Linked DNA regions of Homo sapiens. The protein of the gene in region 1 purifies or fractionates together with the protein of each later gene. This does not show direct contact. Each region holds a gene or a part of one and is shown in the gene's direction. Other genes may lie near its edges.

Region 1 (3,843 bases):
AGATATTTGTAAAACAGGGGCTGATATCTACCTCACACGTGCATAACACAACACCTGGAAGACAGGAGGGGGCACTCGATGAATGGTAGTTTTCCCCAATTTCCCCCCCCACCCAGTCTTCCTCTCCATGAAGTTGGAAAACCCAAGAAGGTATTCCCAGCAAAATAGAATATCGAACGTCTAGGCAGTTTAACAGTTTGGGAGCTCTTGGTTTTTATCTGTAATTTACATACACTTTATCTTATTTTAGAACAGTAATTTTTATATAGTAGCTAAATCTGCAATCTTTATTTAGTAAGTCCTGATGAAACATATTGCCCTATTAATATCTATAGCAGCACCTCGGTGAAGCCTGAGTTGAAATGTGAGTGTATTCTAGCCAGTATACCCAAGACTAGCACTAGACTCACTAGTAAATGCAGTCCTTTCCTTCTGCCCCCTAAGTCTCTCTCTCTGGTATGTTAATCCACCCATCCAGACATCCACATGCCATAATAGGCAGGTTATGATCCCATTGTCAGCTGTCGTTTAAATTAGAGTTTTTAAACCTGTGTGTTTTCGGGTACCATCTTTCCTGTCTGGATTGGTATTTACGTCACTGTCCATGCTTCAGGACAGGTAATGTGAAGACAATGGCTGACCGGATTCTGACCATGAGATCTGAACTCAGGGCACGACTAGAAGCCCTCAAAACCCCTGGGACCTGGAACCACATCACTGATCAAATTGGCATGTTCAGCTTCACTGGGTTGAACCGTAAGTGGCCCCCACCACCTCCAGCCCATGCGTGCATGTAGACACACAACATTCCTTTCAGTCGCTCGCCTTGAGCTGAGCTCACTTTCACAGCCTTTGCCTAATTGGGCAGCCATTGCTTTGGACCAGGACAAGTTAGGTTTTCTTAGGGTGTCCCACCATCTCATAAACTCTCTGGGTCTCAGAAGAGTATTGTGGTCTGCCCTGCTGACCCACAGCCAAGATATTTCCGTGTTTGTGGGCTGGGAAGTGGCTCAGAGCCAGCTGGGAGGTAACAGGATTGGTAGCTGGGAGCCTTAATTTATGAAAGGTTCTTATAAATGCTCAGGTACATTTTGGGTTTGCCTTAATCCTGAATATAATGATTATTCAGGGAACTGATTTCTTGACAGGTCTTTCTTATTTCTAGGTATTATCCTCAAAAAGAGATTACAAAGTTATCTCTGCATTTCATAAACAAGAACCTAGATTGGGCTGGGCACAGTGGCTCACACCTGTAATCCCAACACTTTGGGAGGCTGAGGTGGGCAGATCACGAGATCAGGAGATCAAGACCATCCTGGCTAACATGGTGAAACCCCGTGTCTATTAAAAATACAAAAAAATTAGCCGGGCGTGGTGGCAGGCGCCTGTAGTCCCAGCTACTAGGGAGACTGAGGCAGGAGAATCACTTGAATCCAGGAGGCAGAGCTTGCAGTGAGTCGAGACCGCACCACTGCACTCCAGCCTGGGCGACAGAGCGAGACTCCGTCTCAAAAAAAAAAGAAAAGAACCTAGATTGGTGGTTGGAATTAAAAGCTGATTGAAAATCTAGTAGGTGGTCATGCATGGTCTTGGTCAATTGTCAGTAGGGCACATCTGCCATCTGCAGTCCCATCTGATGACAGAAGAGTCATTTCTTCTTTTTTTTTTTGAGATGGAGTCTTGCTCTGTTGCCCAGGCTGGAGTGCAGTGGTGTGATCTCGACTCACTGCAACCTCCGCCTCCCGGCTTCAGGTTATTCTCCTGCCTCAGCCTCCCGAGTAGCTGAGATTACAGGCGTCATTTCTTTAGTAATTCCCACAGTGCAGATGTGGCGACTCACCTGTGTGTCCCAGTGACTCTAGGGAGGGATGTGTGGCTGGCTTGGTTTGTAGGCAGAACGGCAGAGGCCGTGGGGAGGTATTTAACTGGGGCCATCACAGTGCCAGTGTGAAGTGGGCTCAGAAAAATCCAAAGGAAATAAATATAAATGGCAGTTAATAGAGCTTGTATTGTGGACCCCTCAAAATACTTTGGGGTAAAATGAAGCTACCTAAGAAAGTAAAGAAATAGCTCAGTTAGCTGTAGATGTCCTCTTGACTGAGGAACAGAGAATTAGTTCACTCACAATTATAAAAATATTACATGTAACAGAAATATTAATAGTCTTTAGTAGTAATAGTCTAAAAGCTCACAATATGGGAATGTCTCCCTGTAAAATATCCATATCTTCCCATTATCCACAGGAGGAAATTAGTTTTATTAATATCACGAATTGGAAAAATGATGAGAATAGAACTGTGCTTATAACACAAAAGTTATATTTTTAGCGCTTGGCATCATTTGCCCTTATTAAAAACAGGGGTTTTGTTTTCCTCCCAACTTTTTTTTTCTTTTTGAGACAGAGTCTTGCTCTGTTGCTCAGGCTGGAGTGCAGTGGCACAATCTTGGCTCACTGCAACCTCCACCTCCTGGATTCAAGCGATTCTCCTGCCTCAGCCTCTCAAGTAGCTGGGACTACAGGCATGAGCCACCACACCCAGCTAATTTTTGTATTTTTAGTAGAGACAGGGTTTCACCATGTTGACCAGGCTGGTCTCAAACTCCTGACCTTAAGTGATCTACCTGCCTTGGCCTCCCACAGTGCTGGGATTACAGGCGTGAGCCACTGTGCCTGGCCTTTTTTGTTTGTTTGTTTGTTTCAGACACGGTCTCGCTCTGTCACCCAGGGTGGAGTACAGCGGTGCAATCTCGGGCCACTGCAACTTCTGCCCCCTGGGCTCAGGTGATCATTCCACCTCAGTGTCCAAGTGGCTGGGACCACAGGCGTGAACCACCATGCCCGGCTAATTTTTTGTAGAAACGGGGTCTCACCATATTGCTCAGGCTGGTCTCAAACTCCTGAGCTCAAGTGATCTGCCCGCCTCGGTCTCCCAAGGTGCTGGGATTACAGGCATGAGCCACTGCACCTGGCCAGAAAAGTTTTAAACATACAGAAAAGTTGGAGGAATTGTACAGTGAACCCCTATATATCCGCCACCTAGTTTCTACAATTCTCACATTACAATACTTCCTTTGTTATCTTTTTTCTGTCAGAATGGGGCTTTTAACCTGGAATCCCTGGATGTACGTTTAGGAGAACTGTGAAGCCCCTGAAATGATGTTTAAAAAATTGTATATGTGTATTTTGGCCCTGCTCTAGGGAAAGAGTCCATAACTTTTACTAGCTTTTCAAACTGTGACACTTCCCTTCTCTGAAAAAGTAGAAAGGCCTCATTTTTACTAAAACAAAACCAAAAGCCAGGGTAGGAGTCATTTAATCACTGCCTCAGGGCACAGGCTTTTAGAAAGAGTGGCACACCCAGGGCTGTGTTGGCTTGAGGCTCTATCCCCTTGGGTGACCAATTCACACAGGTAAACCTCTTCTTAAGCTTGCTTTCTTTGTTCACTGGTTTGGAGGGGTCAAGGGAAAACTTACCCTTTGCCCTCTGAAAGTTTGCTGGAAATCAGCTGACAAGAGGCAGATTAATAGGAGAAAAGGCATACAAATTTATTTATTTATTTTTGAGTCAGAGTCTCACTCTGTTGCCCAGGCTGGAGTGCGGCGTCACAATCATGGCTTACTGTAGCCTCAACCTCCCAGGCCCAAGCAATCCACCCACCTCAGCCTTCGTAGTACCTGGGACCACAGGTGTGTGCCACCATGCCCGGCTAATTTTTAAGATTTTTTTGTAGAGACAGGGTCTCCTTATGATGCCCAGGCTGGTCGTCAACTCCTGGGCTCAAGCAATCCTCCCTCCTCAGCCTCCCAAAGTACTTGGATTACAGGCATGAGCCACTGTGCCT
Region 2 (4,144 bases), on another chromosome or scaffold:
ATGGCACAATCTTGGCTCACTGCAATCTCCGCCTCCCGAGTTCAAGCAATTCTCCTGCCTCAGCCTCCTGAGTAGCTGGGATTACAGGCGCGTGACACCATGCCTAGCTAATTTTTGTATATTTTTAGTAGAGACAGGGTTTCACCATGTTGGTAAGGCTGGTCTTGAACTCCTGACCTCGTGATCCGCTGGCCTCGGCCTCCTAAAGTGCTGGGATTACAGGTGGGAGCCACCGCACCAGGCCTCTTTTTTTTTTTGAGACGGAGTCTTGCTCTGTCGCCCAGGCTGGAGTGCAGTGGCGCGATCTCGGCTCACTGCAAGCTCTGCCTCCTGGGTTCACGCCATTCTCCTGCCTCAGTCTCCCGAGTAGCTGGGACTACAGGCACCTGCCACTACGCCTGGCTAATTTTTTGTATTTTTAGTAGAGACACAGTTTCACCGTTTCTACCATAGAGCCAGAGAGGGCCCCCTCCTGTTTTTTTATCTCTTACCAAGACCTCCTGGGGCTCCTCATTCCTTCAGGATGGTCTCGATCTCCTGACCTTGTGATCCGCCCGCCTCGGCCTCCCAAAGTGCTGGAATTACAGGTATGAGCCACCGCACCCGGCCTTTTTTTTTTTTTTTTGAGAAGCAGTCTCTGTTGCCCAGACTGGAGTGCAGTGGCACGATCTCAGCCCACTGGAACCTCTGCCTCCCGGCTTCAAGCAATTCTCCTACCTTGGCCGCCCAAGTAGCTGGGATTGCAGGCGCCCACCACCATGCCCAGCTAATTTTTTTTTTTTTTTTTTTTAGACGGAGTTTCGCTCTTGTTACCCAGGCTGGAGTGCAAGGGCGCGATCTCGACTCACCACAACCTCCGCCTCCTGGGTTCAAGCGATTCTCCTGTCTCAGCCTCCCAAGTAGCTGGGTTTACAGCCATGTGCCACCACGCCCAGCTAATTTTGTATTTTTTTAGTAGAAACGGGGTTTCTCCATGTTGGTCAGGCTGGTCTCAAACTCCCGACCTCAGGTGATCCGCCCACCTCAGCCTCCCAAAGTGCTGGGATTACAGGCGTGAGCCACCGCGCCTGGCCTCAAGTGGGTTTCTGAGGGGCTATTTCTTGCTCATTAGTTGGGGGACCGGCCCTCACCACAGATTCCAGAAGCCCAGCAATGCACACTCAGCCCTCAGTGGGCTGTCTCTGAAGGTCCTGTCCCTTTTTCGCTTCCCCCCCGCTGGAGCTGCTTCTCCCGCTTGCGGGAGCCCAGGCTGAGAGCAGACACCCAACCTGTCGAACCTGTCTGACGTCATCATCTCTCCACCCACCTGGGCCCCAGGTCTCCAGCCACCCCGCTCTTCCTGTTCTCAGCTTCCGTCCTCTCTGCTTCCTTACAGCACCCCCACCTGCCAGAGCTGATCCTCCCTAGGCCCTGCCTAACCTTGAGTTGGCCCCCAATCCCTCTGGCTGCAGAAGTCCCCTTACCCCCAATGAGAGGAGGGGCAGGACCAGATCTTTTGAGAGCTGAGGGTTGAGGGCATTGAGCCAACACACAGATTTGTCGCCTCTGTCCCCGAAGACACCTGCACCCTCCATGCGGAGCCAAGATGGGGAATGGAACTGAGGAAGATTATAACTTTGTCTTCAAGGGTGAGTTGGGTTCCCTGAAGCAAGAGGAAGCCTGAGAGACCCAGAAAGAGATTGAATAGAGCCAGAGAGGGCCCCCTCCTGTTTTTTTATCTCTTACCAAGACCTCCTGGGGCTCCTCATTCCTTCAGAAAGAAAGCTGCAGGGAGTGGGGGAGGGTCTGGTTGCAGGGGCAAAAGTCAGGGAGCTTCTGAGTATGCTCTACTGTGGTAAATAATGATGTTGATTCCTCCTTAAGAGTGCTGAGTTAGGCTCCTCTGCCCCGTTCCTAATAGAAACCCAAATCCCTGGTGTCAGCCAGTGCAGCACAAGAGATGGAGGTCAGACTTCAGAAAGGACTTCCCTCTTTTATTTTTTTTTCTGAGACGGAGTCTTGCTCTGTCGCCCAGGCTGGAGTGCAGTGGTACAATCTCAGCTCACTGCAACCTCCACCTCCTGGGTTCAAGCGATTCTTCTGCCTCGGCCTCCCAAGTAGCTGGGACTACAAGCACCTGCCACCACGCCCGGCTTATTTTTGTATTTTTAATAGAGACGGGGTTTCACCATATTGGCCAGGATGGTCTGGAACTGACCTCATGATCCGCCTACCTCGGCCTCCCAAAGTGCTGGGATTACAGGCATGAGCCACCACACCCGGCCAGGACTTCTCTCTTGAGAAGAAAGGGAAACCAGCAAACAAGAGGAAGAAAGTCATCTTTTCTGGGCAGGTGTACAGGGAACGAGAGAAAGGAGAGACACATCCCATTATAGGGTGGGGCAATAAATACATAGGGAAGACAGAAAATATCATGAATTTGCTGCAGAGTCTGATAGAATCCAGAGGACTCCTAGGGTTGTAGCCTCGTCTGCCTGGCCCTTGGCTGACTCACTGGACCTGCATACCAGGCACTGGGCTCAACTTTGCTGTCCCTGGAAGCATGCATGTATCTTTCTAGCCCCTGTGTTTGGTGCCTTTGCTGTTTTCCAACCCCACCTTCATACTTCCTTTAGGGCAGGGTGGACTCTCCAGCCACCCTACCCCAATGCCTCTCCCAACCTCAGCCCGGCCCCTCCCTTGAGCTGGGACTCTCACTCCAGAACCCGCCCTTGAGCTGGGGAACCTGTACTACTGGCATCTTTTCCAGGAAGGAAAGGGTTAGCAATAGTCTGGGGCAATAATATGAGGAACTACCATTTATTGAGCACTTACTATGTACCTGCCACTACCTCATTAATACCATAACAATCCCCGAAAGTCATATTTTATTTTGAGGGGCAGTGTAACATTGTGGTCAGGAGCCAGACTGGGTTCAGATCTCAGCCCTGCCACTTACAAGTATTGCGGGTTGGTCAGCCGGGTGCAGTGGCTCACGCCTGTAATCCTAGCACTTTGGGAGGCCGAGGCGGCGGGATCACTTAAGGTCTGGAGTTCCAGACCAGCCTGGCCAACATGGGGAAACCCTGTCTCTACTAAAAATTCAAAAATTATCTGGGTGTGGTGGCACGTGCCTGTAATCCCAGCTACTCGGGAGGCTGAGACAGGAGAATCACTTGAACCCAGGAAGCAGAGGTTGCAGTAAGCCGAGACTGTGCCACTGCACTCCAGCCTGGGCAACAGAGCAAGACTCTGTCTAAAAAAAAAAAAAAAAAAAAAAAAGTATTGAGGGTTGGGTTGGGGTCCCTAGAAGCAGACGCTGAGAAGAAGTTGGGGTGTTCAATGTTTGTTTGTTTTTTGAGACGGAGTCTCGCTCTGTTGCCCAGGCTGGAGTGCAGTGGAGCGATCTTGGCTCACTGCAATCTCCGCCTTCCTACAACCTCCGCCTCCTGGGTTCAAGCGATTCTCCTGCCTCAGCCTCCTGAGTAGCTGGGACTACAGGTGTGCACCACCACACCCAGCTAATTTTTGTATTTTTAGTAGAGACAGGGTTTCATCATGTTGGCTAGGATGGTCTCGATCTCTTGACCTTGTGATCCGCCCTCCTAGGCCTCCCAAAGTGCTGGTATTACAGGCGTGAGCCACCGCGCCCAGCTCAATGTTTTTTTACAAATCAGCACCTGTGAAAGGAAGGGAGAGGAAACATAATTGGGCAGAGGGAGAAGTCAAACAGCAACACAGGCTGGACAAACCTGGGTCAAGGGCGGGGAGCTCTGTGATTGCCTCACCTTGCTTGAGCACTGGGTGTAGGCTGCCCAGAAAAGGCATGACTTCCAGTGAGGCCGCTGTCTGCACCAGAGGCAGACGCTGAAGGAGCTGACAGCTGGAGCCTGTCTGCAGCCTGCACTCCCTGCAGCTTGGGGCAAGTCCTTCCTTGAAGGCTGATCTGGCCAGCACATCTCTGTGTTTACAACACTAGCCCTGTTATCTTGGGCAAGTCATTTGACCTCCAAAGCGCCTTGTCTGTAAAAACAGGTAAAATAGTAATGGGATTCATGGCATTCTTATGAGGATTAAATGAGGTAATATGTGTAAAGCTTTTAACGACACTGCCTGGCACATAGTAAGCATTCAGTACACTGTAAACATGAACCATTAGTATCTC
Region 3 (4,398 bases), on another chromosome or scaffold:
GGTGATCTGCCTGCCTCGGACTCCTAAAGTGCTGGGATTACAGGTGTAAGCCACCGCGCCCAGCCAATGAGGGATACATTTCTAATCATTGCTTCTTTTACTTCAAACCATGGTAAAAGGACCTAACAAATGATGCCTTTCTAGAAGAGTGAAGGCCTACTGGCAATGTTTTCTTTAACCCATGATGTGGGTTAGAGGAGTGAACCAATGTTTTGTTTTTGACTGATTATGAAGCAATGCATGTACCATTAAAGTTTCTTACCTACTTCGGGCCTTCATCTTTTATCTATCAAAGTCTAAGTTTATCCATGTATAAGGCTGGCTGCAAACTCCTTCACAAATAAAAGTATACCCCATAAGTGCACATAACAGACCCCTTTTCCACTTCTATTGTTTGTAGAGGCATAAGGAAGACAAAAAATATTGAAAGATAAGAGTTTCATGGTAGTAGAAGTCTTAATCTGTGAACTTGGGAAAAGCTGTTCACATCAAGGATGCCATTTTCTTCTTGGGAGAAATTTCCCAGGGTAGCTTTACCTCAAAAGTTCCAATGGGTGCACTGTTCCAAAAGTGTGGAGGGACCGTTCTCATTTGCGAGACCATGAACCCAAAGCCCAAGGTCCTGAAGTTTTGTTGTAGTGTGGATGACAAGGACAGTCTTCTCCAATGTTTCCAGAAAATTCAAACCATAAAAAGCTTTCTTTACCGGGGGAAAATACACTGTAGCATAATAATCTACTGTTATAACATCAGCCCTCTTGCATGGGAAAGCTTTTATACAACCAGAATGACAAATTGGAATTCAAATAACAATTGAATGAAATCCCCTTACAAAATGTTTAAATGGCCCACCCGGTGACCAAATGTACATGAAGCTTTGTTTGTCTTCCCAGGAATATGGGACTAAGCATTGGTTATAAACTATTTTAAACAATTTCAGTATCAGCTGGTTTAATATGAAAATCTGACGAAGTATTTTCTTGGTATTTAATTAAATTTTTGCTTGTTTTACTTGGGTTAGTAGCTTTATGCAAGGAAATTTCATTCAAAGCAATGAAAAACAACAACCAGGGCTGATACTGACTACTAAAAACTGTTTTAAACTCAGAAGGAAAAATAATATGGATTTCAGGCGTTCCCAGGTTATAAATGGGTTTTCTGCATGTTTGAAACCAAAAACAAACTTTCCTATAGAAATATCAGTAAATCTAGCAAAGAAATAACACACCCCAACCGTGTCATAGCCTGTCTTAAATAAGGGAAAAACATGAGAGCACTAGTAAGAGGCAAGTAAAGGGTGCTTTGCTTTACAATTGATGGAAGCTCGCAGGCTTTGTTCTTGGCTGCCCCACGCAGCCAGCGGAAGGCAGGCCAAGGAGGAAAGAGCCCGGCCTCCCAGGTCCCCGCAACTACAACTCCCAGGATGCCGCGGCGCAGGCTCCCTGCGGGAGCAGGCTGGGCTCAGCTCCGCTGGACCCGCGCTGGGGAACTCTGGCCTCGCTGCACTCATGGCTTCTCCTAGCAAGGCAGTGATTGTTCCCGGGAACGGAGGCGGGGATGTGACCACCCACGGCTGGTATGGCTGGGTGAAAAAGGAGCTGGAGAAGGTAAGCGCCCAACGCCGCTGCTCCGTGAAGTCAGCCTGGAGGGAGGGACGGCGGGAGAGGACTGAGGGCTGAAGTTTGAATAGGCGTCTAATCCCCTCTAGCAAAGCCCTGTGTGTTTTCCTGCCTCTCCCCCGCTGCCTTCTCTTAAAGTCTGAGCTAGTGGTCGAATTTTGACTGGTAAAACTGCCTGGAAGACTTCTCTGAGGGCTCAGCCTTTAGAGTTAAAGGAACCCCTTTGAACTACCGAGGCTGAGCCCCTGAGCCCCGCCCCCCGTATCTGCTGCTGGTTCAGATTTGGGACTTCCCAGATAATTTTACATGTTCACTGCTTCCCGCTTCAGCTTTTAAAAAATTAAATATGCTATACTTAATATATACAAAGGATATACGTAACATGCGTCTACATTATGAGGCATAATGTAATGAATTACCAAACTAAAACCTGGGACATTGCCTATACATCATCTTCCAAACGACCCTTATGTCTACCCATCTCAGTCCCGTGCCATCCTGAATTTTTTCATCTGCTTCTCTTTTTAAAATTGAAGTACTTTTCAACCTATGAATATACCTTTTAAACAACAGACTGTTCTATTTGGCTTCTTGGTGAGCTTTATAAAAGTGGCATCTTACTGTAGGCTGACCTGTGCCGTTTGATTTTTATTTTTTAACCCTCTTCTGTAACCAGGCGGTAAGTCGGCTCCCTGGGTTGCTGTCCTCTAGAGCGGGTCTCCAGAATAGATTGCAGCGCTGTGGCTGAAAACCCTGGTCAGAGTTACAACCCCAAAGGTCAGGGCTGGAGCTTCTGAGAGTATGCTGTCTCCAAATTTCTGTATCACGTTCCTGTGCCACGTTTTACCTACTCCCTGGAACACAGTCTATTTGGCTCCAGGTCAGTCTGTCTAGAACACATTTGTTCATGCCTCTCTATAGATGCAGGCCTGTAGAGGCAAATATGGGTGTACAAATGCAGATATAGGTCTCTCTATAGAGATCAGCAGAGCTGCCTAGATACAGAACTACAGATGGAGTTCATGCGAAAAGATGGTCACTTAACCTACTTCATTTCATAACACAAGTTAATACTGAATTGGTAACGATCATATCAGGTGCCTCATTTCTTATTAGCAAAGTATTAGTTGTAATTAAGCTCTTTATTATAGCTTTTTCTCCCCCCTCATATCATAGATACCTGGTTTCCAGTGTTTGGCTAAAAACATGCCCGACCCAAGTAAGTTTTAAACTTGTTTTTAAATAGCCTCATCTTGTTGGGTTTTGATATTACCATTTTTGTGGTAGAGAACAAGAATATCATAGTGGAGGAACCAAAGATGCCTATATACCTAAGAAAGAATAAGGCAAGCAGCTTGGGGAGGAGGGTGTGAACCAAAAGCCATAGAAAATTCTTTTTTTTTTTTTTTTTTCAATTCTGTGAATTTGTCATTTTTATTTATTTATTTATTTATTTATTTATTTATTTATTTATTGATCATTCTTGGGTGTTTCTCGCAGAGGGGGATTTGGCAGGGTCACAGGACAATAGTGGAGGGAAGGTCAGCAGATAAACAAGTGAACAACGGTCTCTGGTTTTCCTAGGCAGAGGACCCTGCGGCCTTCCGCAGTGTTTGCGTCCCTGGGTACTTGAGATTAGGGAGTGGTGATGACTCTTAACGAGCATGCTGCCTTCAAGCATCTGTTTAACAAAGCACATCTTGCACCGCCCTTAATCCATTTAACCCTGAGTGGACACAGCACATGTTTCAGAGAGCACAGGGTTGGGGGTAAGGTCACAGATCAACAGGATCCCAAGGCAGAAGAATTTTTCTTAGTACAGAACAAAATGAAAAGTCTCCCATGTCTACCTCTTTCTACACAGACACGGCAACCATCCGATTTCTCAATCTTTTCCCCACCTTTCCCCCCTTTCTATTCCACAAAACTGCCATTGTCATCATGGCCCGTTCTCAATGAGCTGTTGGGTACACCTCCCAGACGGGGTGGTGGCCGGACAGAGGGGCTCCTCACTTCCCAGTAGGGGCGGCCGGGCAGAGGCGCCCCTCACCTCCCGGATGGGGTAAGCCATAGAAAATTCTAGTAAGGATTAGGAAAGCACCTGGGCATGGTAAAATTTAATTTTCAACTTTGCACCAACTTGATTTTTCCCTTCTATATGTCTACAAATATTTTCAGGCAGAATTTGTGGGTACTATACTTGAGGCATAGGTATAAAACTTTACAGCATCTATTTGAGGTCCTAATGTTTAAAAATGTCATATTGCTACTTTTGTTCTGGGTATGCCTATGACTTGTCTCAGGAATCCCCTTTTTGGAAAGAATGAATAAATGTGAATTTTAGAATGTTGCAAGAGTTTTTTTGCTTTTTTTTTTGAGATGGAGTCTCGCTCTGTTGCCCAGGCCAGAGTGCTGTGGCGTGATGTTGGCTCACTGCAACCTCTGCCTCCTGGGTTCAAGTGATTCTCCTGTGTCAGCCTCCCAAGTAGCTGGGATTACAGGCATGCGCCATCACGCCTGGCTAATTTTTTTTGTATTTTTAGCAGAGACGGGGTTTCAGCATTTGGGCAGGCTGGTCTCGAACTCCTGACCTCAAATGATCTGTCCACCTCAGCCTCCCAAAGTGTTGGGATTATAGGTGTGAACCACTGCACCTGACCATTAGCTTTTTTTTTCAAGTTTGAAAGTTTACATTAAAATTTCAGAGTTATATTTTATTATTTCCTTAGTATTTTCTTACAAGAACATGGTAAACCAAAAAAAAAAAAAAAAAAGAGAA
Region 4 (3,843 bases), on another chromosome or scaffold:
AGCTCCTGAAATAGCAAGGAAGCCTGGAGAATCTTAGGAAGAGATGTCCCCTGGCTGCAAGGGGGAGCCTACCTGGGGAGGTTGCAGCATTGTGTAAACTCCTTACCCAAGAACAGCACGTGGACTCAACACTCCCAAAAGTGCTCAGAGTGAAACCCACACCGGGCCGCAGTCTGGGTTATCCTTCCAAACCAGTTTCTTTTCTTTTCTTGAGACAAAGTCTCTCTGCATCACCCAGGCTGGAGTGCAGTGGCACGATCTTGGCTCACTGCAACTTCTGCCTCCCAGGTTCAAGCAATTCTCCTGCCTCAACCTCCGGAGTAGCTGGGATTACAGGCACACACCACCATGCCCAACTAATTTTTGTATTTTTAGTAGAGATGGGGTTTCACCATGTTGGCCAGGCTGATGTCGAACTCCTGACCTTAAGTGATCCACCCATCTCGGCCTCCCAGAGTGCTGGGATTACAGGCGTGAGCCACCGCACCTGGTCTGTTTTTTGTTTTATGAGATGGGGTCTCACTTTGTCACCCAGGCTGGAGTGCAGTGGTGTGCAATGGTATAATCTCAGCTCACTGCAACCTCCACCTCCCAGGCTTGAGTGATCCTCCCACCTCAGCCTCCCGAGTAGTTGGGACCACAGGTACAACACTGAGCCCAGCTAATTTTTTTGGTAGAGATGGGGTTTTGCCATGTTGCCCAGGCTGGTCTCAAACTCCTGAGCTCAAGCGATCCTCCCGCATTGGCCTCCCAAAGTGCTAGGATTACAGGCATGAGCTACTGCACTTGGCCATATTATTATTATTTTGAGACGGGGTCTTGCTTTGTTGCCCAGGCTGGAGGGCCAGTGGCATGATCAAGGCTCACTGTAGCCTCAACCTCCTGGTCTCAAACAATCCCCCTGTCTTCACCTCCCAAGAAGCTGGGTCCTTAGGTTTTGAAGTCATAGCATCTGCCACATCAGCGGTGTTGGGGTCCAGGAGAAGCCCAGTTAGACTGGGCGGTGGGTGGTGCCTGGTGCAGAGTCAGCACTGCTCGGTGATGGACCAGGCAGATGAGTGAATAACTGATGAAAGAATGAGGGCAACAGTCCCTAGTGGGCAGAGCCAGGGCTTTGGCTGGAGCGACAGGGCCAGGGGACCTGATGGTCTTGTGAGCAGGACAGTGACATGAAGATGACTGTAGGTAACTGTGCCTGGCGCTCACTGCTGAGCTCAGGACACAGGCTCTTGTGTCATCCTCCCATCAATCATTCTTTTTTATTTATTTTATTTTTTTGAGATGGAGTCTTGCTCTTGTCTGCCAGGCTGGAGTGCAGCGGTGTGATCTCAGCTTGCTGCAACCCCCACCTCCTGGGGTTCAAGCAATTCTCCTGCCTCAGCCTCCTGGGTAGCTGGGATTGCAGGTGCGCGCTGCTACGGCCGGCTAATTTTTGTATTTTTAGTAGAGACAGGGTTTCGCCATGTTGGCCAGGCTGGTCTCGATCTCCTGACCTCAAGCAACCCACCCGCCTTGGCCTCCCAAAGTGCTAGGATTACAGGTGTGAGCCACTGCGCCCGGCCCCTCCTATCAGTCATTTTGTAGATGAGGAGACTGAGGGTCAGACAGTTTGCTCTGCCCCAGGTCATCCACAGAGGAACGAGTAGCGCCAGGACTGAACGCAGTTCTCTGGCCTGAGCCCAAGCATGTACCCACCACACTCTACTGCCTCCATGGGCGCAGAGTTAGGGTATCCTGGTAGAAGAGTCGGGCGGAACCCACCTGCCCAGAGATCCCTGACCCCGCCCCTCTTTAGGGCACAGCCCAGCGCCTGCAGAGCCTGGGAACGGAGAAGGAGACAGCCCAGAAGGAGTGCGAGGCGTTTCTGTCCACGCGGCCCGTGGGCCCCGCTGCCCTGCAGCTGCCCGTAGCCCTCAACAGCGTGAAGAACAAGTTCAGTGACGTGCAGGTTCTGTGCAGCCTCTACGGGGAGAAGTGAGTGCTCTGGGGACAGGGCAGCCACGCAGGGCAGCAGCGTGTGGCCCAGGGAGTGTCTGAGCCTTGCCTCCTCTGCGGCAGAGCCAAGGCTGCCCTGGATCTGGAGCGGCAGATCCAGGATGCGGACAGGGTCATCCGAGGCTTCGAGGCCACCCTGGTGCAGGAGGCCCCCATCCCTGCTGAACCGGGGGCTCTGCAGGAGAGGGTCAGCGAGCTGCAGGTAAGGGACCAGCCGGGGCCTCCTGGTGTCAGGGGAACCCAGCATTCAGGGGCGGGTGGGTGGACACGGCGTCTCCCCAGCCACGAGGGTGCACGGCTGCGTCCCCTCCTCCTGCAGCGCCAGCGGAGGGAGCTGCTGGAACAGCAGACCTGCGTGCTGCGGCTACACCGCGCGCTGAAGGCCTCGGAGCACGCATGCGCTGCCCTGCAGAACAACTTCCAGGAGTTCTGCCAAGACCTGCCTCGCCAGCAGCGCCAGGTGCGAGCCCTCACCGACCGCTACCACGCCGTAGGGGACCAGCTGGACCTGCGGTGAGCGACTGGGTCCTCGGGGCACAGGGTGTGGGCTGGTGCAGAGCCAGGCATTGCTGTCTACAAGCTGTGTGATCCTGGGCTAGTGACTTCACGTCTCTGAAGCTGTTTCCTCATCTCTAAAATGGGATAACAACAGCACTTACCTCCCAGGGTGGTGCCTGGTAGAGACTGTCCCATCTCTGAATTCCCAGGGTCAGGGAGTGGGGATCTGCACAGCAGGCCACTCGGGCCTCCTGACCTGCCCCCAGGAGGAGGCTCCCATCAGCCTCCCTGTGCACCTGCCCCTGTCCCCACGGGGCAGGTCTTATCTCTGTTCTGGGCCTCGTCCTCCTGCAGGGAGAAGGTGGTGCAGGATGCCGCCCTCACCTACCAGCAGTTCAAGAACTGCAAGGATAACCTGAGCTCCTGGCTGGAGCACCTGCCCCGCAGCCAGGTGCGGCCCAGCGACGGCCCCAGCCAGATCGCCTACAAGCTGCAGGCGCAGAAGGTGAGGCTGGGGCAGGGACAGCTGCCTGTGCCCATGTGGCCCCCTAGTGGCCAAAGCTCAGAAGCGCTCTAAGGGGCTTCAAAGCCCAGGCCACGGAGGCCCTGGGCCCCTTCCCTGGCCTCCAGCTGAAATGCTCCTCTTTGCCCACAGACGGGGCCAGCCCATCTCTGTCTGGCCCGACTGGGGCAGTGGGATTTACAAGCTCAGGCCACAGAGCCCTGAGGGTTCCGGCCACTTTCTCATGCTCATCAAGCCCCTGCCATGTACCAGGCAATGTGTTCACTGGGGTACAACCCTGCACCCTGGCAGCTCCCAGCCTGGTGGGGGAGGTCTGTGATGCCGACAAGCATTGGTGGGAGAAGCTGGAGTGCTGTGGGTGCCCCCAGGCTGGACACACTTGCGGGTCAGGATCGGTAGTGTGGGAGGAAGCAAGTGTAGCCGGGGGAGGGATGAAATGTCCCATGCAGAAGGCATGGCAGTCAGGGGAAAGGAGGGGGACTCAGGGGCGAGGGCGACCAGATGGGCAGACCACACAGGCCCTTCCGGCACAGGACCCAGGCTGCACTCTCTCCTGCAGCCCCCAGAAGCTGCTGGGGAGGGGATGCTTCCAGGCCAGTGTTTAGAAGCTGGCTCTGGCTGCCATGTAGAGAATGACTAAGAGGGTGGGAATGAAGACACGGAGGCCCACGAGGAGCCAGGGTGGAAATCCAGCGGAGAGAGAGTGGTGGCCTGGCCGGGGAAGGGACCATGGCACAGGGCGAGGTGGGCAGATCTGAGATGGAGATGGCAGAATTAGGTGGACTTGGTGACTGCTTGAAGGGGACAGTGAGTGAGATGGACGGGGC
Region 5 (3,843 bases), on another chromosome or scaffold:
AACAACCTCTAGGTTCTGTTCTAATGGTAACTATAGAACCTTCGCTTGTTTCTCAAAATGTGATGTTCTGGTAGTTCATTTGTCATCCTGATAAGATTGAAGTTAAGAAATAGACTCATTTTTGCTTTGTTGTAACTTTCCTCTTATAATCTTTTTTTTTTTCCCTAATTGAATGGTAGCTAATAAACAATCTGTATTGTTTGGCCTGTATTTCTTTTTCATCAGTCTGTCTTCCCTAATATGACAGGGCAGTTAGGAATTTTTTCTTTTTCTTTTTTCTTTTTGTAGACATAGGATCTTGCTCTGTTGCCCAGGATGCTCTTGAACTCCTGGCCTCACTCGATGCTCCTGCCTCGGCCACCCAAAGTGTTGGGATTACAGGCATGAGCCACCATGCTTGGCCAGATTTTTTCTTTGATTGCTTTTCTAGAATCTGTTTTCACTTTTGTGTTTGTTTCTATTTTCCTTCTATATGTGCAGGATATATTCAGAAAAAGTAGAAATTTTATGGCCTGGCACAGTGGCTCATGCCTGTAATCTCAATACTTTAGGAGGCCAAGGTGGACAGATCACTTGAGGTCAGGAGTTCAAGACCAGCCTGGCCAACATGGCAAAACCCCATCTCTACTAAAAATACAAAAATTAGCTGAGTGTGGTGGTGTGTGCCAGTAATTCCCGCTATTCAGGAGTCTGAGCTACAAGAATCACTTGAACCTGGGAGGCAGAAGTTACGTTGAGCCAAGATCGCGCCACTGTACTTCGACCTGGGCAACAACACGAGACTCAGTCTCAAAAAAAAAAAAAAGAAAGAAAGAAATTGGCAAGGTGCGGTGGCTCATGCCTGTAATCCCGGCACTTTGGGAGGCTGAGGCAGGCAGATCACGAGGTCAGGAGTTCAAGACCAGCCTGGCCAACATGGTGAAACCCTGTCTCTACTAAAAATAGAAAAAATAGCTGGGTGTGGTGGCGGGCGCCTGTAACCCCAGCTACTCGGGAGGCTGAGGCAGGAGAATGGCGTGAACCTGGGAAGCAGAGGTTGCAGTAAGCCGAGATTGCGCCATTGTACTCCAGCCTGGGTGACAGGGTGAGACTCCATCTCAAAAAAAAAAAAAAAAAAAGACATTTTGTAAGAACTTTTGATCCTTAAAAGTACATAGGCTGATGCAGTGGCTCATGCCTATAATTCCAGCATTTTGGGAGGCCAAGGTGAGCAGATCTCTTAAGCCCAGGAGTTTGAGAGCCACCTGGGCAACAAGCCAAAACCCCATTTTTACAGAAAATACAAAAATTAGCCAATCATGGTGGCATCCACCTGTAGTCCCAGCTACTGGGGAGTTTGAGGTGGGAGGATTACTTGAGCCTGGAGATCAAGGCTGAGTGAGCCAAGATCATGCTGCATACCACTGCACTCCAGTCTGGGCGACAGGGTAGGTAAGGCTATCAGAGTGAGACTCTGTCTCAAAAAAAAAAAAAAAAAAAAAAACTGTTGAGGCTAGGTGTGATGGCTCATTGTAATCCCAGCACTTTGGGGGACCCAAGGCAGGAAGATCACATGAGTCCAGGAGTTCGAGACCAGCCTGGGCAATATAGCAAGACCTGGTCTCTACATATAAAAGAAAAAAAGAGAGAGGGAAATACATTGGTCTTACATTAATAACTTTGAGACACCTATGCTTTTTTACATTGTTACTGAGGTATAACTATCTACAGTAAAGTATGCTAATCTTGAGTGTACAGCTTGATGAATGTTAACAATAGTTACACCTATGTAACTACTATCCAGATCAAAATGTAAAATATTTCCAACATCCCAGAAGGCTCCTTTGCACACCTTCCCAGTCAGCCTTGATCCATTGCCTGTTTCTGAGATGCATAAGGTGAAGTAATATTGTATGTAGTGTTTTGTGTCTGGCTGCTTTGTTCAACATATTGTCTGTTACCTTCACTGAAGTTGTTACATGTGATTGCTTACTTTTTAAAAAGTTTAAATGTTTGCATTTCAGTTGGTTTTTGGAATCTTCTCTCAAAAAAGAAGGTAATCCTCACCCTCACACAAGTGCAGGCTGTTTATCTTCAACAGTTGAAAATCACTGTAGAGGAAGTATTTATATATCTTAGTCTACGTTGTATCTTGTGATTATGTCTAATGTCTAATTATATTCATTAATAAGACCATTTCCCCCTTCTTTTTTATTATACAAGTTGAGATTGGGAGTGTGTTGAGAGCCACATACCACTTTTGATACGTGGTAGCCAAGTTTTTACCTAATGTTAAATAATCTTATTCCTTGTCTTTATTAGTTATGCAGAAGGGGTTAAAAGATAACTTTGCTGATGTCCAGGTCTCTGTAGTTGATTGCCCTGATTTGACTAAGGAACCCTTTACCTTTCCTGTAAAAGGTAAGCAATTTTTGCAATTAGCTTTTGTTTTTTAGTCATAATCTTTTTCTGAAACTAGAATTATTTTTAAGGACATCTTAAATTATCTACAAATAAAGGATATTGTCACAACATTTAGGCTAAATTGTGCCAAATTTCTGTGCTCACTCTTCTGATATTGGTTAAATTTCATTTCATACTCTTGTGGAAAAGGATTGTGTTTTATTCACTTATGTAACCTTCACAGATTGTAGAATAGATATCCAATAGGTTAGAATTCTTTGTATCACACGAGAGTTTTGCTTTTAATTGCTCAGACTGTTATGGAAACTGATTTTAATTTTTATGATTTTATTTATTCAAGACCAGAAGGGATCCTAAAAGCCTTGTATTTGAATGATCTGTTAAAACTAATCCTTCAACAAATTTGCCAAGTGAGCATCCACTGTTTGAAGTGAGAAGGAAGGGAAATTAGTATTAGAAGAATAAAATAATTTGTCAGTATGATAGATAGTTAGTTGATGTTTCAGTTTTTACAATAACACCACAAGGTAAGTAGTAGCCCTTGTTTATAGATGAGAAAACTGAAAACGAGAGAGGCTAGATAAGCTCAGTGTAAATCATAACCAGGATTCAAATGCAAGTCTGTTTCCAAAGTCTAACCCCCTCCTGTTATACCCTATTATGATGAGGAATTTGAGGATAAACACTCAAAGTGTTCTTTTTATTATGTAATTAACATCTTTGCTAAAAAGGAGTTTGCCATAGAAATTCTGGACTCTAGTTCTGTCTTAGAACAAACCTGACTTTGAGATAACATTAGCATGAGGGGATTTGAATTGAATGTTTTTTGGGGGCCTTTACAGCTTAAACAATCTTTGATTTTAAGTAGAGCTGTAAATTCTAGAAGGCTTGTGTACCATGTGGCAATTTCTTTTAGCTTCTTCAAAGGATTTAGCATAGTACTTTTTTATAGTTTTTTTTTTTTTTTTTTTTTTTTGAGACAGAGTCTCACTCTGTCACCAGGCTGGAGTTCAGTGGCGCAATCTCAGCTCACTGCAACCTCTGCCTCCCAGGTTCAAGCGATTCTCCAGCCTCAGCCTCCTGAGTAGCTGAGACTACAGGCATGTGCCACCACGCCTGGCTAATTTTTTGTATTTTTAGTAGAGACAGGGTTTCACCGTGTTAGCCAGGATGGTCTCGATCTCCTGACCTCGTGATCCGCCCACCTCGGCCTTCCAAAGTGCTGAGATTACAGGCGTGAGCCACCACGCCCAGCCTTGATTTTTTTAAAAATATGAGTGTAATGTATTTCCCCTGCTAATTAAGTAATTAACTAAAATTAAATAAAGGTCAGGAGACAGAAGAGTACAAGAAAGAAGGAAAAATGGTTAATCTTTTTTTTTTTTTTTTTTTTTTTGTGTGTGTGTGTGTGAGATGGAATCTCGCTCTGTCGCCCAGACT
Region 6 (4,369 bases), on another chromosome or scaffold:
GGGCAGATCACCTGAGGTCAAGAGTTTGAGATCAGGTTGGCCAACATGGTCTCTACTAAAAATACAAAAATTAGCCAGGTGTGGTGGTGCATGCCTATAATCCCAGCTACTCGGGAGGCTGAGGCATGAGAATTGCTTGAGCTGGGGAGATGGAGGTTGCAGTGAGCCGAGATCACACTGCTGCACTCCAGCCTGGGCGACAGAGAGAGAGATTCCATCTCAAAATATATACATACATTGCACTTCCTGTGTGAGCCCCTTGCAAAGTTTGCTTGCCCTAGGCTTGTCCTTCTCTCTACCCCTGAGTCCCTATGTTTGGACTCCTCTCTACACAGCAACAGGCTGGGGGATTCTCTTTAACCCACCAGCAACTGTTCAACCTGGCGCATGGGCAGGAAAACTCGAGATTAAAGTCTGAGAACCTGGAAGGGATTGTCAGATCCAACCCCATCATTTCAGATGAGAAAGCTGAAGACCAGCGAGAGGAAGAAACTTCTCCTGTTAAAGCACACTGGATGAAGACGTGCTCCACTCCCAACCTCCAGAAAAAAATCACTGATAGAGTGGCCTCCACTGTTCACCAATTTTGCCTTTTTATATGATAGTTTTCTTTCCTGAGAGGGTTGAGAATCCCCATGCAGTGCTCTTTCTGGCAAGGGCATCATACTTGGCAGATTTTACCTTTATTATCGGGGAAAACTGGACAGTCACGGGGAGCTGCTCCCCTTCTTTTGGACTTGGAAACAAAAGAACCTCACTGGGGAGGAGTTCCTGAGGAGAGGAGTGTAAGTTGGGGTGAAGGGAGTGAAACCCTGGGCTCCCAGGGGAAGAAGAGTGGGCCTTCGGCTGCCTTTAAGAGGCCTCTTGCCCCTCCCCTGCCTCATAAGGAATCTGAAACGTTTAAACCCCAGAGGCTGACTCAGTAAGAGTCATTTGCATAATATTTTAGAGTGATTTAGCCATGCGCTCGACATGTGGCTGATTTAGCTATGCTGGGCTTGGTGGTCATAAGAATAGCACTGGTTCTGACCGACACATCCTCTATCTCTCTGTCCAATGACCCCAACCCTTGCTTGGGCACTTACTGTTTGTCAAATTTGGACCAATCACCTTACTGTGTGCCAGTGTCATGCTAAGCTCCAGGAATTTGAAGATGAATCCAACCTGTGGCCCCTTGGAAAGTCAGGTCTGAGACTTGGAAGTAGGTGTCTGTTTGGTGGGGATCACCCAAAGATCAGCCCATGGGTGTCCCTAATTTGGACAAAGAACCCTCCAAACTGGACCCATCTTGGTGTGCCTGCCTGCATGACCTATTTTTTAAGCTGCAAACAGCTAGCATTACCTGTTCTCAACATCTGGCATTACCTACCTTCTTAGTCACCTTCCCTCAGGCTTCAAACAGCTGTAGGGCCCCACCTCCTATCCATCTAGGGTCCCTCCCTCCCCTTTTTCTTCCTGAAAGGATCTGGAGACACCAGCTCCACAAGTCCTGGTGTCTTTAAAAGGATCAGCTTGAGGAATAAGGCTCGTCTGAGAGCTGTGACATTCATCTGACTCTAGTGAAAGTCCAACAGCCACTCCCTTTTTGGCCTCCAACTGGGCACCATGAGGGCCTGCATCTCCCTGGTATTGGCCGTGCTGTGTGGCCTGGCCTGGGCTGGTAAGTCACTATCTGGCGGGCATGGGATTGCTGGTGGGGCGGGATCTTGCCTAAAGAAGCAGAGAGTTGGAGAACTTGGTAGAGGGCAGGGCCGTGGGACAAGGGAGGGTGAGCTCTGTCCTAAAGCCGCAGAGCACTTTTGGGTTGTCCTTGTCTGAGGGTGCAGGCGTTGGTCCCGGAATGGACTGGACTATGTGGAGAGAGTTGCAGGGCTGATGGTCTGATTTCATGGAATTCCCTTCTTGACACCTTGGAGGATCAGCCCCAAATATCCCTTAGTCCAGCCTGACTTTTGATCTCCCCAAGATTTTGTTGTCTGGGGCCACTGTAAGGAATAAAGCTAGGGCTGGTGTCCATGGGGTCTGAGTGGCCTGGCTGCCCTTGGTCACTCCTTCCACTGCCTGGTGACAGGTGAGGTTGTTTAGGGTGTGATGTTACTTTGGGTAGAGCCTTAGGAGGTGGGCAGGCTTAGGAGGAAACTGAAAGGACCTTTGACCAGGAGGTGGGCCTCGTCCTATCTGGGGCTGTACAGGGGTCAGAGGAATGGATCTCTGTTGCAGTGTTAGGAGAATTGAAGAATACAGAAGGGACCTGGCCCACAGTTATGAGAGGTCCAGGGGATGGGACTGGCAGAGGAACAGGACCATGTTCCTGTTTAGTAACTGTGCAAAATGCTGGTGCTGATGGGTTAATTGGTAGCTAGTGGGTGGGTGGGAAGGAGTGCCAAGGGAGGGGCTGAGCTGAGGAGTGTGGGGAGAATCCTCCTCTGCCCACAGGAGAAAGAATCCTTCCACTGGGTTGCTCCTGTGTAGGACTGTGGAAAGGATTAAATGAAATAATGTATGAGAAGCACCTGGTGCAAAGTGAGATCTCAGTGAACTGGAAATTCGCTATGATTATGACTATAAATTTTCTTGGGAGAAACTTCCGCTTGGGGTCATTTCCAACTGGGTTGTGGAAAGGAGACCCTTATGGGATTTCTAAGTGGAAAACCCCTGGAAGAGGAAGTTGTGCCTCCCAACCATGGATGAGATAGTGCATCTTACCAGAAACCAGCTCTGCCTGGGCCCTAGTGGGTGGAGAGGCAGTGGGAGAGCATGAGGGTGGGCCTGGGAGCCACCAGCCTCAGCCCTGTTGGTTGGGAGGAAGGTGGAACTTGGGGGCTTAATGTGTAGGGGTGGCCAGCGGGCTTGGCATATTCCAGCCTTAGGGAAGGAGAGCAACTCTGGATATTTGGTCCCTGGGGGGCAGAGGTAGCAGTGGCTTTAGAAGTGCAGGTGGAGCTCTTGCTGCTAGGTCGGAGGGCAGTATCTGCTTTGGCTGTGGGATCGATGGGGAAGTGAGGTCAAGTGTATGAGGCTTCCTAAGGTGGCAGGGAAGAGGCTCTGCACTTGTTGATACTATCCCAACATCTCAGAACTGAGAGGCAAGAATATGAATCACATGGGGAATCACTGACAGCCTCAGGTCCTCCTTTATGAGCTGGATGTCTGTGGAGAACCTTGGTTGATTTTTTTGGTTGTGAATGGAGGCAGGAAGCTAGTCCAAGGGGTGAGGCTTCTTGGTTGACTAGGTCTCCATGGAAACAGCATCTGGGGCCTTCTAACGGTACAGATGTGTAGGATGTCCCAGTCATCAGAGGGGCTGAGCACCAGTGTACAGGGACACTGTGTCCACCCAGGCTTGGGACCAAGCTTCCTTGATGGCCAGTATGGATAGGGAGTGGCTGTTCTGGCATATTGAAGTCTTAGAAAGTGCAGAGAAATTGAGCATTTCTTGGGGGAATGGAGGGAGAATCTGAACCCGAGAGAGGAAAGGCTCAGATGAAGAAAGGCAGAGAGTCAGAGAGGTGAGGCAGAGGAACAAGAGGCACAGGTTACTACAGCAGTGATTCAGGCACCTGGCTTGGGGAGCAAGGCTTACTCAGAGTGTTGGTGTTAATGGTGCAGTGTGGGGATGCTGGAGTGAGTTGTTAGGGTGACTAGTTACTCATCAGAGTGTCCCCAGAATGTCACAGCAAAGTGCCTATGAGGAAAAGTTCCTCCCACCCCTGCACTCCACTGTCAAATCCCAAGGTCACCTTGAAGCAGACTAAGTGCACAGAGAAATGTGAGAAAGTGCTGGCATGGGGCTCTTGCTGGAGACAAAGTTCTTGAGCAGAGATGAAAAAGCCCACTCAGCTTGGGCCGGCGGGGGTGCTCTCCTGCACGTCCAGCTGACTGCTCGCTTGCAACCCTTCTCAACTGGTGCCAGCTGCTGGAATGAAGTGAATTCTTTCCCTGGACTCTGCTGATTTGGCCCATTAAAAACATTGCCCTGATTTGCCTGAATTCTCTCCCTTTGGATTCTGGGTGTACTGCCAGGCTGACTGAGCAGGGAGCTGATGGGCTGAAAATTTCTCCTTAAGGTCTTTGCATTCAGGCTCCAAGGGAGCATCATTTAACATTCAAGAGGAGTTCCTGCCGGCTTGAAGGAACAAGTGGCCTTGGGCCTGGTCTCTTTTAGGGACTGGAAACCTGCCTTCCTGCCCACCTTGGAGGCCTGACAATGTGAAGTTGTCTGAGGACCCGGGTTAACCTTGACCCAATGCCTCTCTGATGTAAAGAATACAGACCTGTAGTGATGAAGTCAGCCAGGAAACCAGCAACACAGATGTGCTGACAACCCAGCCCAAGGGATGGCCCTGTTGAAACCCTGGGAGAGTGTCAG
Region 7 (3,243 bases), on another chromosome or scaffold:
GTGCCTGCCACCACGCCCGGCTAGCTACAACAGTTTTAATTCCTTGTTAAACTGAATTTAATTTTCTCAGACTGGGAGAATGGTGCCATCTTGTGGACATGAGAGAGCAGCGCCGCACGTCCCACACCCCATGCAAAGGAAAATATAAACACGTCTCTTCTCGTTGGTGCACTTACTAGCAGACCATGATTTCCATTAGCTACAACTACTGAACCATTTGTTATCTATTAAAATTGCCCTAAGAATTATTAGATCATGCATCTGTCTTCTAGCTCATCTTCTTGTGTTTGGGAAATGAGTTCTTTTGGTAGACATTCATGTATTATTCCAGACCACATACCTTGTAACAACAGTGGAAGCTGATTCATGTTCACTTTAAAAAACATGAAGTCTGCACAATTTAAACACTCTCCAAAGGCAAGAGAATGAATCAAATTATTTCTCAAGAACTTTCTAGTTTTCATGATTCTAGTTGAATTTATATGAAAGTATTTTAAGATACTTTACTTTTAAAATACAAAAGATACTCTTAAAATACAAAAAGTATTTTAACATACTATAATGAAGAATGAAAAGAGACATTGTGACTTTAATACTTCCTGAAATTTCAGTGGAGTATGCTGTGTGTCTCTGTCTCGGCAGAGTGTAGGGTTTGCTGGTAGTTTTTTCCCTACTGCTACAAACTTACACATAAAGGCCCAAAACACCTTACCCTTGTATTCTATAGTACATCTAGCCATACATCTAGCTGTGTAGAGGCTGTAGATTACCAATGATGATAAATCAGTGTCTCACAAGAGAAGAGACGATTTCCTTCCTCAACTATAATACCTAGATTTATTGTGTAAATTCCCAAACCTTTTTCATATTTTGTAAATGCTTCAAAGGTGAAAAGAATGTTTATTTCTTCTTGATCCAAGGAGGAAGCATGCTTTCAATACCAGTCACTCCCTGCATCAAAATGCACAGATTTTTACTTTGATGGGGTCTTTGTTGATACATCCTTGGTGCTGAGGTTTATGCTAAAAAAAGGATAAGCCATCTGAAGGGATCTTTATTCTACACTGGAAAAAAAAAAATCAGATAACCCTTTTGTTAATGATACTTCTCCAAAGAAAGAAGCCATGAGGCTGTTTTTAGCACTAAAGTATCTGAAACATCCAGTAAGCACCTTTGGAAAATCTTACAAACATTCTGGTAACAGGGAGAGAGTTCATGATAATAGTTTTACAATACTGTGGTACTCAGCATCCTAAATGCTATGAAATTTTATCCACCAACTGAGTCCCCAGTAGTGACAATGCTACCGCGTCCCCTTATGTACTTCCGGGTGTCATCCAAACCTCCCCTTTGACCTAATACAGCCCGTTTTCATTGTTCATGCAAGTGCTGTTCCTCGATAACCATTCCTCCCACCTTTCCACCACTGCCAGGACTACCTGCTCTTTCCTCGCTGGTGTCTCGAATCTACCATCTCACCACCAAATATATGTTAGTCTCTTTACTCCTTTTCCCTTCTCTCGGGTTTTCCCAGTTCCCTTGAATTTCAGACATTGTAAGAGTGACTGTGGACTAGCTCTTAAGAACTGGGTAGAAAAAGGAGCCCGTGAGGTGGGATGTCCTGTGTGAAGGTGCTGGTGCCCCAATGGTGGGATCTGGACAGATTCACCCATGGCAGGTTGACCCTCTCATCCCACAGGGGCCCAGGCTTCCCTCCCTGCCTTGCCTCCTTGAGGCATGCAGTTCTACACCTTGTTTACTTGCTTACTTTTGCTGTACTGGTGTTAGGGGAATTGTGTCTGCTATAGACCCTTCACCATGGGTACATTCATCTTTTATTATTTTCCTTTCTTTTAGGGGGCACACAGTATGATCAAAATCACATTATCCTCAACACTGTCAGCAAAGAGAAGTTTACACAAGTGTGGGAAGCCATGGTCCTATATACCTGAACAAAGAAGGAAGAAGAATCTTCTGGAGGTCCTTCCAGCCACCTTATTTCTTAAAAAGGACAATGCTGATGGAAGACCAGACTGGAAAGTGGATCGACTCCTCCTTCATTGATTCTAAATTCAACCTTAAATCATGCTGCCATGACTCAGAGAACTTACTCATCGTTTCAAAAGACTATCATAGCTTTAAACCAATAATTTGTCCTCCTTTCATTTCTTGCCTTTCATTTTTGGTAGCTGCTTAAACAGGTTGCCTAATTAGCAGCTTTTGGGTGATTTTGTAAAATGTTATATCAAGATTTCAAGACTGTGTACATTTTAAATTATTTCCAAAGATAGTGACAGGAGAGAACTGGAACAAATTTACCAACTTTGTGGACCTACAAAGCCCTTACACTTTAAAGGGTAAGACAAAGGCTTAAGTTTGAAAGGTAGAGAACTGTTTAGCATCTGAGAAGAAATACTTTATTAGGCCTGTAATTTTGGTTCTTGGCCTTAAACACTTTCTGGAACCTTTAAATATGCTGCATAGCACAATGGGAAAGCCTTAGGTATTCACACATTTAAGGAACTCTAAACAAAATACTATTTTCCTTTAGTTCATATTAAAAATTAATACATTTTAAAAATTTAATGTCAAAGTCTGGTAACATTTGTTAGTAGGATTTGAGTTATTATTTTTTGAGACAGGATCTCAGGCTGGAGTGCAGTGGCACAATCACGGCTCACTGCAGCCTCTACCTCCCCAGGCTCAGGTGATCCTCCCACCTCAGCCTCCCAAGTAGCTGGGACTATAGGCACACATCACCAAGCCCAGCCAAATTTTGTTTTTTTTTTGTAGAGATGGGGTTTCATCACGTTGCCCAGGCTGATCTCGAACCTCTGGGCTCAAGCAATTCACTCGCCTCGGCCTCCCAAAATGCTGGGATTACAGGCCTGAGCCACTGCGCCCAGCCAGGATTTGAATTATTTTAACTCATCCATGGGCTGCCCTAGAATGTCACAAATGAGGGTTGTTTAATGCCTTTCTTATAGCTGCTACTGGAACACTATTATGACCTAATTTATGAGCCATCCTTACTCATCTACAAGTGCTGAAGCAATGTTACATACTTTTTTGCTAAACTCAGATTTTTTAGCCTAATTTCTTGTCCTCCTATCCACCTGCATCCACACATGGCCTGCATGGGGCTGCCTTCCCTGCAGTGTTCTGCAGCCATGCTTCAGGGTATAGCTGTTGGTGGACAGCCTCAGGTCTTGGGGGCACTATAGCCACTAAACGAGGTGTGAA

Evidence for each region.
Region 2: the proteins of GOT1 (region 1) and RAB25 purify together in Homo sapiens (affinity purification with mass spectrometry; one large-scale study listed by BioGRID and IntAct). This does not show direct contact.
Region 3: the proteins of GOT1 (region 1) and RBBP9 purify together in Homo sapiens (affinity purification with mass spectrometry; one large-scale study listed by BioGRID and IntAct). This does not show direct contact.
Region 4: the proteins of GOT1 (region 1) and EVPL purify together in Homo sapiens (affinity purification with mass spectrometry; one large-scale study listed by BioGRID and IntAct). This does not show direct contact.
Region 5: the proteins of GOT1 (region 1) and C11orf54 fractionate together in Homo sapiens (co-fractionation; one large-scale study listed by BioGRID). This does not show direct contact.
Region 6: the proteins of GOT1 (region 1) and ENDOU purify together in Homo sapiens (affinity purification with mass spectrometry; one large-scale study listed by BioGRID and IntAct). This does not show direct contact.
Region 7: the proteins of GOT1 (region 1) and CRYBG1 purify together in Homo sapiens (affinity purification with mass spectrometry; one large-scale study listed by BioGRID and IntAct). This does not show direct contact.

The regions. Positions count from the first base shown.
Region 1 is NC_000010.11:99,399,493-99,403,335, reverse strand, and holds part of GOT1 (aspartate aminotransferase, cytoplasmic), read left to right. Parts: intron 1-613; coding exon 614-756; intron 757-3,843. UniProt on the Homo sapiens protein: Biosynthesis of L-glutamate from L-aspartate or L-cysteine. Important regulator of levels of glutamate, the major excitatory neurotransmitter of the vertebrate central nervous system. Acts as a scavenger of glutamate in brain neuroprotection.
Region 2 is NC_000001.11:156,059,816-156,063,959, forward strand, and holds the start of RAB25 (ras-related protein Rab-25 precursor), read left to right. Parts: upstream 1-1,344; 5' UTR 1,345-1,585; coding exon 1,586-1,628; intron 1,629-4,144. UniProt on the Homo sapiens protein: The small GTPases Rab are key regulators of intracellular membrane trafficking, from the formation of transport vesicles to their fusion with membranes.
Region 3 is NC_000020.11:18,494,278-18,498,675, reverse strand, and holds the start of RBBP9 (serine hydrolase RBBP9), read left to right. Parts: upstream 1-1,450; 5' UTR 1,451-1,508; coding exon 1,509-1,607; intron 1,608-2,795; coding exon 2,796-2,838; intron 2,839-4,398.
Region 4 is NC_000017.11:76,013,581-76,017,423, reverse strand, and holds part of EVPL (envoplakin), read left to right. Parts: intron 1-1,795; coding exon 1,796-1,974; intron 1,975-2,058; coding exon 2,059-2,197; intron 2,198-2,314; coding exon 2,315-2,508; intron 2,509-2,847; coding exon 2,848-2,998; intron 2,999-3,843. UniProt on the Homo sapiens protein: Component of the cornified envelope of keratinocytes. May link the cornified envelope to desmosomes and intermediate filaments.
Region 5 is NC_000011.10:93,748,045-93,751,887, forward strand, and holds part of C11orf54 (ester hydrolase C11orf54), read left to right. Parts: intron 1-2,301; coding exon 2,302-2,400; intron 2,401-3,843. UniProt on the Homo sapiens protein: Exhibits ester hydrolase activity on the substrate p-nitrophenyl acetate, in vitro. Regulates DNA damage and repair by regulating HIF1A degradation via chaperone-mediated autophagy (CMA).
Region 6 is NC_000012.12:47,722,650-47,727,018, reverse strand, and holds the start of ENDOU (uridylate-specific endoribonuclease isoform 1 precursor), read left to right. Parts: upstream 1-1,528; 5' UTR 1,529-1,605; coding exon 1,606-1,660; intron 1,661-4,369. UniProt on the Homo sapiens protein: Endoribonuclease that cleaves single-stranded RNAs at 5' of uridylates and releases a product with a 2',3'-cyclic phosphate at the 3'-end. The UU and GU sites are more efficiently cleaved than CU and AU sites. Targets mRNAs to regulate their expression.
Region 7 is NC_000006.12:106,566,615-106,569,857, forward strand, and holds part of CRYBG1 (beta/gamma crystallin domain-containing protein 1), read left to right. Parts: intron 1-1,857; coding exon 1,858-1,952; 3' UTR 1,953-3,243. UniProt on the Homo sapiens protein: May function as suppressor of malignant melanoma. It may exert its effects through interactions with the cytoskeleton.